Regions from separate parts of the Homo sapiens genome. Here regions 2, 3 and 4 are each linked to region 1. Evidence: fine-mapped expression QTL. A gene starts in region 1. Each other region holds a variant in brackets. All regions are shown on one strand. Distances are between the middles of the regions.

Region 1 (2,689 bases):
TGGACCACGGCATCCTATCAATCTCACCTCTGAAGGTGACCCAGCCTCATACTTCACTGAAACAAAGACCATTAGACACCAACACTCCCAACTTCTTTTATTTCCACTTTAACATTTCTCCATATAGTAATCCTCACTTTTCTACTCCCTGCCATCTCAGAAAAGGAATTCTCTCTCCTCTTTTCCACAGTTAGCTTCTCAAATTTGTACCTTTAATTCTACCCCTCCCAAATATTGCAAGACTTGCTCCACTAATTATTTCCTCTCTTGGAATCTTAATCTCATCATCTTCTCTTGATCCTTCCCCTCAGCCTTTAAAACTCCTAGACCTTAAAACACTCTCTGCGATCTGACAGCCCTTCAAACCAATATACTCCCTATCTCTCTCTCTCCCCTGGTTCAATGACAAGATCTTTGGCCAACTTCTTTCTACTCGGACCTTGCTATTATTTCCTACTAGGCACCCACAAACCCTTGCTTGTTAAACTGATCTCCTTCAAGACTCAAGAAAAGCGCCATGCGGCTCCCTCCTAGGGCTCTCCTGCCCTCTCCTCACCGATGCCGAGAGTGGTTCTGCTGGAGAACCGCCGCGCCTGCAGTTCCTGCACCTTTTCCCGGAGCTGCGCCAGGGAATTACGGACGAACTGGAAGGGGCCGAGAAGAAAGGTCTTGGCCACCACCTCTAGCTCCAAGCCTTTTCGCTCTTTCAGACTTTGGATCCTCCCCGGGGAGGACCTCCAGGAGCCCCTTGGCAGTTTCCCGCCGCCTAGGGCCGACTTTTCCATCTCCTCCTCTACCTCCGGCTCCCGGGCGAGGGAGGCCCCGCGCCGCCCCTTAGACTGGCTGCGGCCGGAAGATTGCAGCCGCTTTGAGCTTACTCCTTGTTTTCTCATAATCAAGGAGTATGGTGGAGCTGGGTCAATTTCAGGCACAGCCCAGCCGAGTCAGGCGAGGTCCAGAGAGACCTGACTCGCCTGGCAGCCTCAACGGACTTGTCCCCGCAGCCGTTGCGGACCTCCCGGTCGTCATGGCGACTGTGAAATGTGGGGTGGGGCGCATGCGTTGGAAGCCATTCGCGCGGGCAGTCCCTGAGTGTCCCCTCACGTGCTCCCCAGCGCGAGCAGCACCCCCGCCTCTGCGCTTCCCAGAGCGTGCAGCTTCCGGTGAGGGCAGCCCCACGCACAGCCCCCCACACCCTCCCCAGCGCCTGCAGCCTCCGGTGCGCGCAGGCCCCAAGCCCACATGCGCAGTCCTCACCTTGCGCGCAGCCCCATGTACAGCCCCGGACGGGCTCCCAGCCCCACTGGCGCAGAACCCATCACCGCTTGCCCTTCACGCGCTTCATTGGGAGTGCAGCCCCCACCCCGAGCGCGCAGCTCCACGCAGCCTCTCCACACTCTCCCCAGCGCCTGCAGCACCCCCAGTGCGCACAGCTCTGCCAGTCGCTTCCCCGGGCGCCGCCCCTGCACCACTTCGGCCCATAACCTTGCGGCGACTGTCTGAAGAACTTCCCGTGGTTTCATTCTTTTCTTCGGGTTTAGTCTTAGCTGTGACATTTTAACCAAAAGATTACACGTTAATTAACGAGGTATTAAAGGGAAAGATCTCAGCTGAAAGAAATGACTGTAGGAAGTGTGTCAGGGAAGCCAACGGAACCGCCGGCCCGCCGGCGGTGCGCCCGGCATTAGGAACGTCTCTACTCCCCTACGATCGCTGAGGTATCGGACAGTCAGTGCCCGTTGCCAACGCAGAGGGAACGGGCCGAGACTGCGGGCAACAAGTGGCAGAGCCGGCGTGAGTCCGGTGGGTCTGATCCCAGAGCCTCAGGTTGACGCCACTTCCTTGGCACGGGACAGCGTTTACTGAATCTTAGAGCAAAATGCTTTTCCAATAAGGTTCCTCAGAAGTCATCAGCCCTAGGAGCGGTGTGCTCAAGCGCTTTCAGCACCAGCCAGGACCAACTAAGAGGGGAGCGCTTAGCTCCCAGTCACCGCACAGCCCTACAAGAGGCCAAAGCGGCTGGCACAGATGCACTGGGGCCACTGACATTTTCCATGTCCTCTGTCACGGGCCACATGCTGGAGCCCACACCGCTTCACTTCCCATCTGTTTGATGATGGATCACATTGAACTCCCATACCCTAACTGACCAATCTAAAGCCTGGCTCATTGTGGCCAGGTTAATTTTTCCTGATGCAACACAGCACAAAAATGTTCGTGGCCCACAAATCAAGTCCTAGGCTTGCTCACCAATGCCTTCAATATTTGCCCAATATACCTTTTCAACTTTAATTTCCCACTTCCTCGGGCACAAAATCTTCCATCTCAGTCATTTCAGGTAAAGTCCACAACCTGAGACATCATAACTGCTGAATTCCTTTATTCATGTGGAAAAGCCATCCCTTGGCTTTTGCATCCTTTTCTCCCTGCCCATCTGAATGCTGTCACCTTCCAAGCCCCAGCCCATTTCTCCAGCCCATATTAATTATGCTTTTTCTGAAGGTCTAGAGCACTTAACTGACAGTACTATTTATCTTCTCACTCAGTTAAATTCAGTAAGTGCTACTACTGCTCATTTTTTGTTTTGGGAGATTTTTTTCAAGCAGCATTTCTGCATTCCTGGCATTGTGTTTGGTGCTCAAAATGTTTTCTCACTTAATCATGCAATGACTGTATGCAAATTTTAAAA
Region 2 (2,689 bases), 330 kb after region 1:
TTCAAATTTATCCTAAGAGCAGTGGAAAGCCATTCACAGGTTTAAACACGATAGTGACGTGATCCACTTTCAGTGTGCCTGGAGTGTGGAGAGTGGATTGAAAGATAATAAGACAGAAAGTCTCAGTTTGCAGCTCTTGGAACTAATCCAGATGAGAGATGAGGATGCTCTTCCTTGGTTGTGGCAGTAGAAACAGAGGAGCAGGTGGATTCGAGTGGTGTGTTGGAGATAGAATATGTAGGCCTGGGTAATTGATTGGCTGGGTGGGAGAGAAGAGAGATGTAGAGGGAGCAGTCAGAGGTGACACCCAGGCTTGGGCAGTTGTCAGGGTGATAGGCGTCATATGAGAGGAGAAGGCTCAGGACACAGAGGCTGTGATGGGAACGGGATTATGGAAAACACGGTGTTTACTTTTGGGTGTGCCTATGGATAACTGGGTAGAGAAGCCCCATAAGCAGACCAAGAACTTCAGGAGAGAGATCAAGACTAGAGAGTTGGGAATCTTCCACCTTTGGCAGGTCATTAAAATCTTGGGAGTAGCTGAGATAAACCAGGGAGAACATATAGGGTGAGGAGGGAAGAGTAAGAAAAACTCGCAGCAAAACTAGGAATTAAAGGATAAGAAGAAGAACTGTATCCTATAAAATGACTGAGAAGGATCAGCCAGAGAGGTGAGAAGAAACGCAGGTCAGTGAGGTGTCCGGAAAGCTAAGTGAAGAAAATGCTGCCAGGAGGGAGTGGTCAATATGCAAAGGTCCATGATGTCCACTGAACTGAGCAGCAAAGGGTCATTGGTTATCTCTGTAAGAGCAGTCTGGGCAGAATGGCAGATGTTGAGTGAGCAAGTTAGGACAGCAAATGTGGACAGTATTGTCTAGAAATTTGCCTGTGAAGAGGAGGAAAGATAAGGGAAGTATTTGAAGAAGAACATTGGTCAAGAAAGGTAGGGGTGTGTGTGTGTGTGTGTGTGTGTGTGTGTGTGTGTAAAAAAAAAAAACCAGGATGTTAGGACAAACTAGTTTAAAATGTGGAGGAGGGCCAGGCCTGGTGGCTCATGCCTGTAATCCCAGTGCTTTGGGAGGCTGAAGTGGGAGGATCACTTGAAACCAGGAGTTCAAGACCAGCGTGGGCAACATAGCAAGACATGATTTCTGAAGAAAAAATATTTAAAAGTTAGCCAGCCATGACGATGTGCACCTCTACTCCCAACTACTTAGGAGCCTGAAGTGGGAGGATTGCTTGAGCCCAGGCATTTAAGGCTACAGTAAGCAATGAATACACCACTGCAGTCTGGCCTGGGCATCAGAGTGACACCCTGTCTAAAAAAATCCAAAAATAATATGTTGAGGAAAAGGAGCCACAAAAAGGGAAGCTTGACATGTTAGGAGAGAACAGGTGTAATTGATTGATCCAAGACTCTGCCAAGGGGGCAGGTAATGGGACCCAAAGGACAGGCAGAGGGATTAGCCTCTGGCAAAAGACTGTATTTGGAGATGAAAGAAGAGTTCCTATGGATGCGGGATTCTCTATTCCTGTTTCTTTGTGAAGTTAG[A/G]AGTGATAACATCTCATAAGCAAGAGGAGAAGAAAGAATGGTCTATTGGGAAAATAAGGTTTGAGAAAAAGTAGAAAAGATTTCAACCAACCCTTGGAGGGACCGATAATTAAAAATAAAAGAAATATGATATGAAAAAGAATCCCCACTTGAGAAAATATCACAATATGAAAATAAAATATGAGTTTTCAAACAAACTTGCTGAAAAGACACACATACACATACACACACAAACACGTAGTACTTTCGAGCCTCAAGCTTGCATGACTTCTACCCAGCATTCCATAAAATCATCCTCTTTTCAAAAAGAACACAGATTAGGTCTTATATATAATATTAAATGTCAGAAAACAATGGAGCAAAACCTGCAAGGACAATTGAAGGAAAGTTACAACTCCAAAATTCTAGATACAACCAAGTTGTTATTCATTTTAAAAAGCAACTGAAGAGCAATCTTAAATATGTAGTGTACTTTCCTGAATACACACTTAGTTTGGGTAGATTGTGTGCAAAGTTAGCATTTTCCTTTTATCAACTCCCTGAAGTATTTCTTGCCCACAGTGACTTTGGGCTTGGCCATATGACTTGCTTTGGTCAATGGGACAATGGTAAATGTGAAGCAAGCAGATACTTGAAAAGTGCTTCCAGATTGTGGCCTGCCCTCTTTTGATGTTTTTGGACATGTAACAAGTTATCAAGTCCTAGCTAGCTTGCTGGATGAGGCACAAGACTACATGGAAGGCAACTGAAGCCTCCTAAGTGACAGCCAGCCAAATATTACACATATATTGAGGACATCTTAGATCATCCAATTGCCAGCTGACCCCAGCTGATTGCAAATGCAAGAAAGAACACAGCCAAGCCAGCTCACAACAGAAGAACCTCCCAGCTGGCCCACAGAAAACTGAGCTAAGTAAAGTGTTGCTTAAAGCCACTAAATTTGGATGTTTTGTTCCACAGCAAAAGTTAAATGATACACTAGGTAAAGACCTGTGCCCTCCCCAAAAGGTAGATGAAATCAAAAGATAAAAATAGGTTTTGGGTAAATTGACTAAGTATACTCCACCATGCCTTTCCCACTGAAGGCATTTTTAAAAACACTGAATACCCGCAGCAGTTTAAAAACTGAAAATTAAA
Region 3 (2,689 bases), 340 kb before region 1:
CCTCCTGTCTGATCAGTGGTGGCATTAGATTCTCATAGGAGCAAGAACCCTATTGTGAATTGCTCATGCAAGGGATCTAGGTTGCCCACTCCTTAAGATAATCTAATGCCTGATGATCCGAAGTGGAAAAATTTCATTCTGAAACCAATCCGCCACTCCCTGGGTCATACAATATTCTCTCTCTCTTTTTCTCTCTTTTAGAGACAGGGTCTTGCTCTGTCACCCAGCCTGGAGTGCAGTGGTATGTTCATAGCTCCCCACAGCCTCAGACTTCTGGCCTCAAGCAATCCTCCTGCTTCAGCCTCCTAAATTGTTGGGATTACAGGTGTGATTCACCACACTTAGCTTATGATAGTCTTTATAAATAAACTGGTAAATGTAAGTAAAGTGCTTTTTAGAGTTTTGTGAACTGTTCTGGGAAATTACTGAACCTGAGGAGGGGGTCGTGAGAACAGCTGATTTACAGCCAGGGAGTCACAGGTACTAATGACTCAGACTTGTGATTCGCATCTGAGGTGGGGGCAGTTTTGTGGGATGGAGCTCGTAATCTGTGGGTCTATGCTGACTAGGAGTAGCTGGTATCAAAATTGAATTTCTGTAGCATACCCAATTGTTTGGGAGAGTTGGAGAATTTGTTGGTGTGGGCAAAAGACATTTATTTGGTATCAGAAGTGCTGCTAGTAAAAAAATAAAAAAAAAAGTTTAGTATTATTGTATCCATATAGAAGAAATACTATACAATGGAGCTACTGCATGTAATGGAAGTACTGAACATGTTTTTGCAACTCCATCTTCAGGGCTAACACATTGAAAGCTTGTAATCAGCCATGGTAGGAGTATTTACACTAGAAAAATCCACAACTGCTACAACTAAGGGTTTAGGTTTTTGAGGGTTTACCAGCATAACACTGCATACCAACCTTGCCAGATTACTGGATATTCTTTTAATAGAATATTGGAGCCTCCAGGGATTATCTGAACCAATAGGATATGTACCTTGGTCTTTGAGGAGGATTTTTTCAAATCTGTAGAAATTGAAATGAACTTGTCCAGAACTGATGGCAATGCAAATGATTCTTGTTTGTGGACATGTAAATTTCCCCTGTCCAGTATAGAGACAGCCCTTCTATCTGTAAAAGTCTTGGGGTCCATTTGCAAGATCATTTCAATATTCGTGATCCATAAATATAT[C/A]TATTCTTTCAATTCTCCTGTGAACCATTCGTAACATCTTTTCTGATTCTCTCATTTCATTAATAAAGTCTTTGACATGTGTTCATTTTACATTGGTAAGAAGTTTTAGCTTTTTTTGAAAATTATCTTTAACAGCAAACTTTTTTGTCTGAAACACATGACTGACTTTAAATCTTCTTGCTAAGAATGTCTGCCTTATTTCCATAAGATTATTCAAACCCCAAGTTTCTGCACTACCCAGTTTCCCTGATAGAATTAAATACTCTGTATCCAGAATATAGTCCTTTTCTTTCAGGTGGTATTATGGCATAACTCAACAGATTTTGCTGCCCTAGTTCTCTTCTAAGAAGTGAAACTTCCAAGAAACTGTAGTTTTGCAGGAGTGACATGATGGGATCCTGTGCAAGTAGCCAGGATTACAGATTGAGGGAGCACTGGGAATCTTGTCTTTGATCCCAATAAAAGACTCACAGAAGGGAAGGGAGCCCTGATTTATTTTAATTAAATTTCATGCTAACTGGAGAGACTAATCATGATCACATTACCCATAGAATCTCGTGGGAAAGGATGTGCTAACAATGGACTTACTGGCTCCTTTCCCAATGCTGCTTATTAACCATAATAGTAACTCTTTCAAATTCCTTTTCCCTGGAAAATTGGCAAAAGTCTCATTCTGATATTGCTTTTGCCTCTACTTTTAATTATTAAATTTTAGTTAATATCCTCTAGATCAGGCAATGGGATCTGATAATTACTGCACCAAGAACTATTTTCAAAAGGCCTGTTCCTTCTTGAGCTGTTTTATTTAACAATCATATGAACTTAAATGGGTGCTATATTTTATTTGGATCAATTCTGCAAACATTAAATTAAAAATATAGCAATCATACACTACTATTTTTCTTAATGTTCACTTCAACATTAGGTATATATTTTTGGTTTTTGGTTTTTTAGCAATATTAAGAAAATAGAAATTTATCTAGTAACACTTGGCAATTGACACTCAACTAAATTTGGAACTGTGAGTATGTTTTGCCTTTGACATCTGGCTCACTTAATTTCCCCTCCATGTGTTCTTTTAATTTAATATTTCAGGAGTTACTGTGCTCCCTAGAGAAGTCAGACTAAATGGTTTTTATTAATATGGTTTTATAAAGCCTAAAAATGTGTTTTATTTGCCCATAGCAGTTATAAATCAGGACCTGAAATTCATTGCAGTTTCCAAAATTGTATATATCTGGTAGTCCAGAGAGGGATAATTGTATTTGTTATATGAGAATTGCTTAGGGGAGTTCTCAGTAGGGCCACTGAAATTATTTTTCAGATAAAATATTTAATCTTTCTTGCCATTTAACCAAATGACTGATTAAACTCCCTTCTGCAACATATAATGTCATGAAACATAGACAAACCCAATGTTTCAATTACAAAGAAAACTCAACTTATTCAATATCCTAGGAGTGACAATTGACTGTTACTCTAAAATTATTAATTAAAT
Region 4 (2,689 bases), 45 kb after region 1:
TAGAGGTACAGGCAAACAGATCCAATCCTAAAGGCATTTTTGTTTGGGTGTCCCACACATTAAGCTGTAAATCTGAAACAGGAAACTTGAAATCATTAAGGTCACATATTTATAACATCATATTCAATTAGGTTAGAAAAGTGCAATATCTGTCATCATGTCATAAAAAGATGTGTTTTTCTCTCAGATCTCTTATAAAGAAAAGCTCCCTATATTGTTAAGGATAGGGCTGTTTTCAATCAGTTACAAGGAGCAATTCAATTACTAGATGGTTTAGTGCAGTAACTGACTCAGACTAATTTAATTTCTTTAGGTCTCTAAAGATCAATTGATCTGATTTGTCCCATCCCCAAAGGCTGTTTATGAAAAATTCAGACTTAAATATCTGGAAATGAAATCCAAAACCTCGGCCAATTTCACACTACTTAGGTCATCTTGCAAACTTTCAGCTAGTCATATAAGAGTGCTGTCTTTGCCCTCAGACCATTGAAAGCTACTTAGCTTCATGTACATGTGAGTGCTCCCACATCAGGATGCTTATCCAATAAGTGGAAAATGTGGCCACATGCATTATCAAATCTGCCATTCTAAAGAGCAGTCAGACTGAGTACCTCCTATCTTGTAAACCAATGTGCAACTACAAGGCTATTTTTACTCTAGGAGTAGTTTATTAAGACTATGAAACATAGAGTTACATGGGATAAAAGTTGTTAGATGAAATGCTCATATAACAAGATGAAGAACTTGTAATTATTTTACATTTTTAGATTTATAAAATGCTGTCATAAATGCCAGCTTATTTGATTCTCAGAATAAACCTCTGAGGTGAGCAGGGTTATTTTTTCCATTTTCTAGATGAGTGTACAGACTCAGAAGTCTGGTGACTTCTCCAGGATCACTCACCCAGGAAGAGGCAGAGGTGAGACTCTAAGCCCTAACTTTTTTTTTCTCCCAATATATCATGCGTACCCCCATGGTCTGAGACAGAAAATATGACACACACTATAAAAACAGATCACTATCACCCCACTGCATCATTGTCTCCATTCTTATTTAATACCTGAATAAAACTGAGAAAAAGTTCACTTATAACAATCCCAACTGCATAAACCCGGTCTGCAGCAGGGCTTCTGGCCCTCAGAAACAGGAAATAAAGTCATGCCTAAATGAAGTTGCCTTTTGCAAGTGGACTCCTTTGTTGCCCACACTGCTGGTACC[T/A]CATTCTCAGTGATTTGTATCCCACCTAACTTGAGAGTTACCACTTGCCTTCTCTCTGCCCTTTGCAATGGATTTTCAATCACAAGCTCAAGTTTCTTTTCCTGATCCCAACACTTCCAACCAACTTGTCCAGCTCTCCAACTATTTAATCTTTCTTTTCTGCTCAAATCCCATAGTTCCTGGCCAACATTCAGCCTCTCCTGCTTGCTCCTCTGCTTCCCCACTGAGCCTCTAAGTCTGTTCCCCTAAATCAAACCTCCGCCTCACATTCTGCCATTTGGGAAGGCTTAGGAAGGCTGAGACAGAGGTTGTTAAAATATGTAATTATCTTTTAATTTGAGTTGCCAAGATAGATTAGACAGAAGTGCTGAGGTCAGCAGATGTGGCTATGTAGGTAACAAAGAGTGCAGCAGAAATGTGCAGAAGTTAGTAGGGAAATTACACAGATGTAGAGATAAGAAAATCAGTGGTTCTGGTGGCTAGGGAACTTCCCTGGTCAATCAAGACATTGGGCCACATAAAAGAATTAGTGTGTTTAAGAAGTAAAAATAATCAATTAGGTTTAAAAATCTTCTCTTTGAAAAACAATTTTTGACATTCATACTGGGCAAAATATGTATCTCCATATAGTCATTACTCATCACCTCAATGGTCTCAAACTGCATGAACCATTTTAATTGAATAAAAAGTAGGGTACGTTACAGGCACATGATTTCACTTGTCTTCTTAGACGCCTGATGTCTCTCCTATTAAATAAAAGCAGTCTACTATATTGGTAAAATTATGTGACCTTGAATTAAATTACATCTCCTTGTTTTAAAATTCCCCAACTACCCTTACACTCTTTGTGTTAGCAAATATATCTACTTGGGAAGGTAAAAAGCTACCAAGGTTCTATTTCTCTACAGACTGCCACTCATTGAGACATGAAGCTTAAAAATGTAAAGAGGACTAAGTCTTTAATAACAACAAAGCCCTATTTTTTATAGTAGAATAAATGTCCTGACCAAAGAAACTATTTCACTCAGAAATTAAGCATATAATAGATCCAGTCACAGTAGCTGTCAGACTTAGGCAGTTGCATATGTACAAGGAATAGGGGCAGAGAATAGAAGACTATATATAGTAAGGTTATGATTCTCTGGTGTCGAAAGGAGTGTGTTGTTACAAACTCCCTCTTCTCTTGATCTTATCTGAACAAGAAAGTAAACAGAAAATTCTCATTACCTCTCAAGGTCAGTGAGCCTGGAGGAATCCCAGAATCCTTTGGCAAAAGGATTGCTATCTATTTTCAGCTTCGTTATCTGGAGAAAGAATGGGTACAAAACAGTATCATTTCTGAGGTCAAGGAAGTAAAATCATAAATAGTTTGTTCATTCTCCATAGCACACCAAGAATATCTTAATGTTTCTCAGTGTCGTGAGAAGGGTGGAAAATGCTACACATGTTCACAAGAGGGACAAATCCCAGC

The links.
Region 2: its variant is fine-mapped to the expression of DPY19L2 in testis (GTEx, PIP 0.98).
Region 3: its variant is fine-mapped to the expression of DPY19L2 in gastroesophageal junction (GTEx, PIP above 0.99).
Region 4: its variant is fine-mapped to the expression of DPY19L2 in prefrontal cortex (GTEx, PIP above 0.99).

The regions. Positions count from the first base shown.
Region 1 is chr12:63,667,501-63,670,189 of GRCh38, forward strand. DPY19L2 (dpy-19 like 2) reads right to left here and starts at 993. Exons shown (of 22, transcript NM_173812.5): 1 at 557-993. The coding sequence starts at 893. RefSeq lists enhancers at 890-949, 1,399-1,900, 1,901-2,400.
Region 2 is chr12:63,999,291-64,001,979 of GRCh38, forward strand. The region is part of intron 3 of SRGAP1 (SLIT-ROBO Rho GTPase activating protein 1); the gene reads left to right. The region is part of intron 3 of LOC105369801 (a long non-coding RNA gene); the gene reads right to left. Among named protein-coding and RNA genes, the nearest start is that of SRGAP1, 160 kb to the left of the region's middle. The variant A/G (reference allele first, on the strand shown) is at 1,553.
Region 3 is chr12:63,324,196-63,326,884 of GRCh38, forward strand. All of the region lies in intron 1 of LINC03056 (long intergenic non-protein coding RNA 3056), which reads right to left. Among named protein-coding and RNA genes, the nearest start is that of LINC03056, 48 kb to the right of the region's middle. The variant C/A (reference allele first, on the strand shown) is at 1,192.
Region 4 is chr12:63,712,955-63,715,643 of GRCh38, forward strand. It overlaps the pseudogene LOC100418730. Among named protein-coding and RNA genes, the nearest start is that of DPY19L2, 46 kb to the left of the region's middle. The variant T/A (reference allele first, on the strand shown) is at 1,219.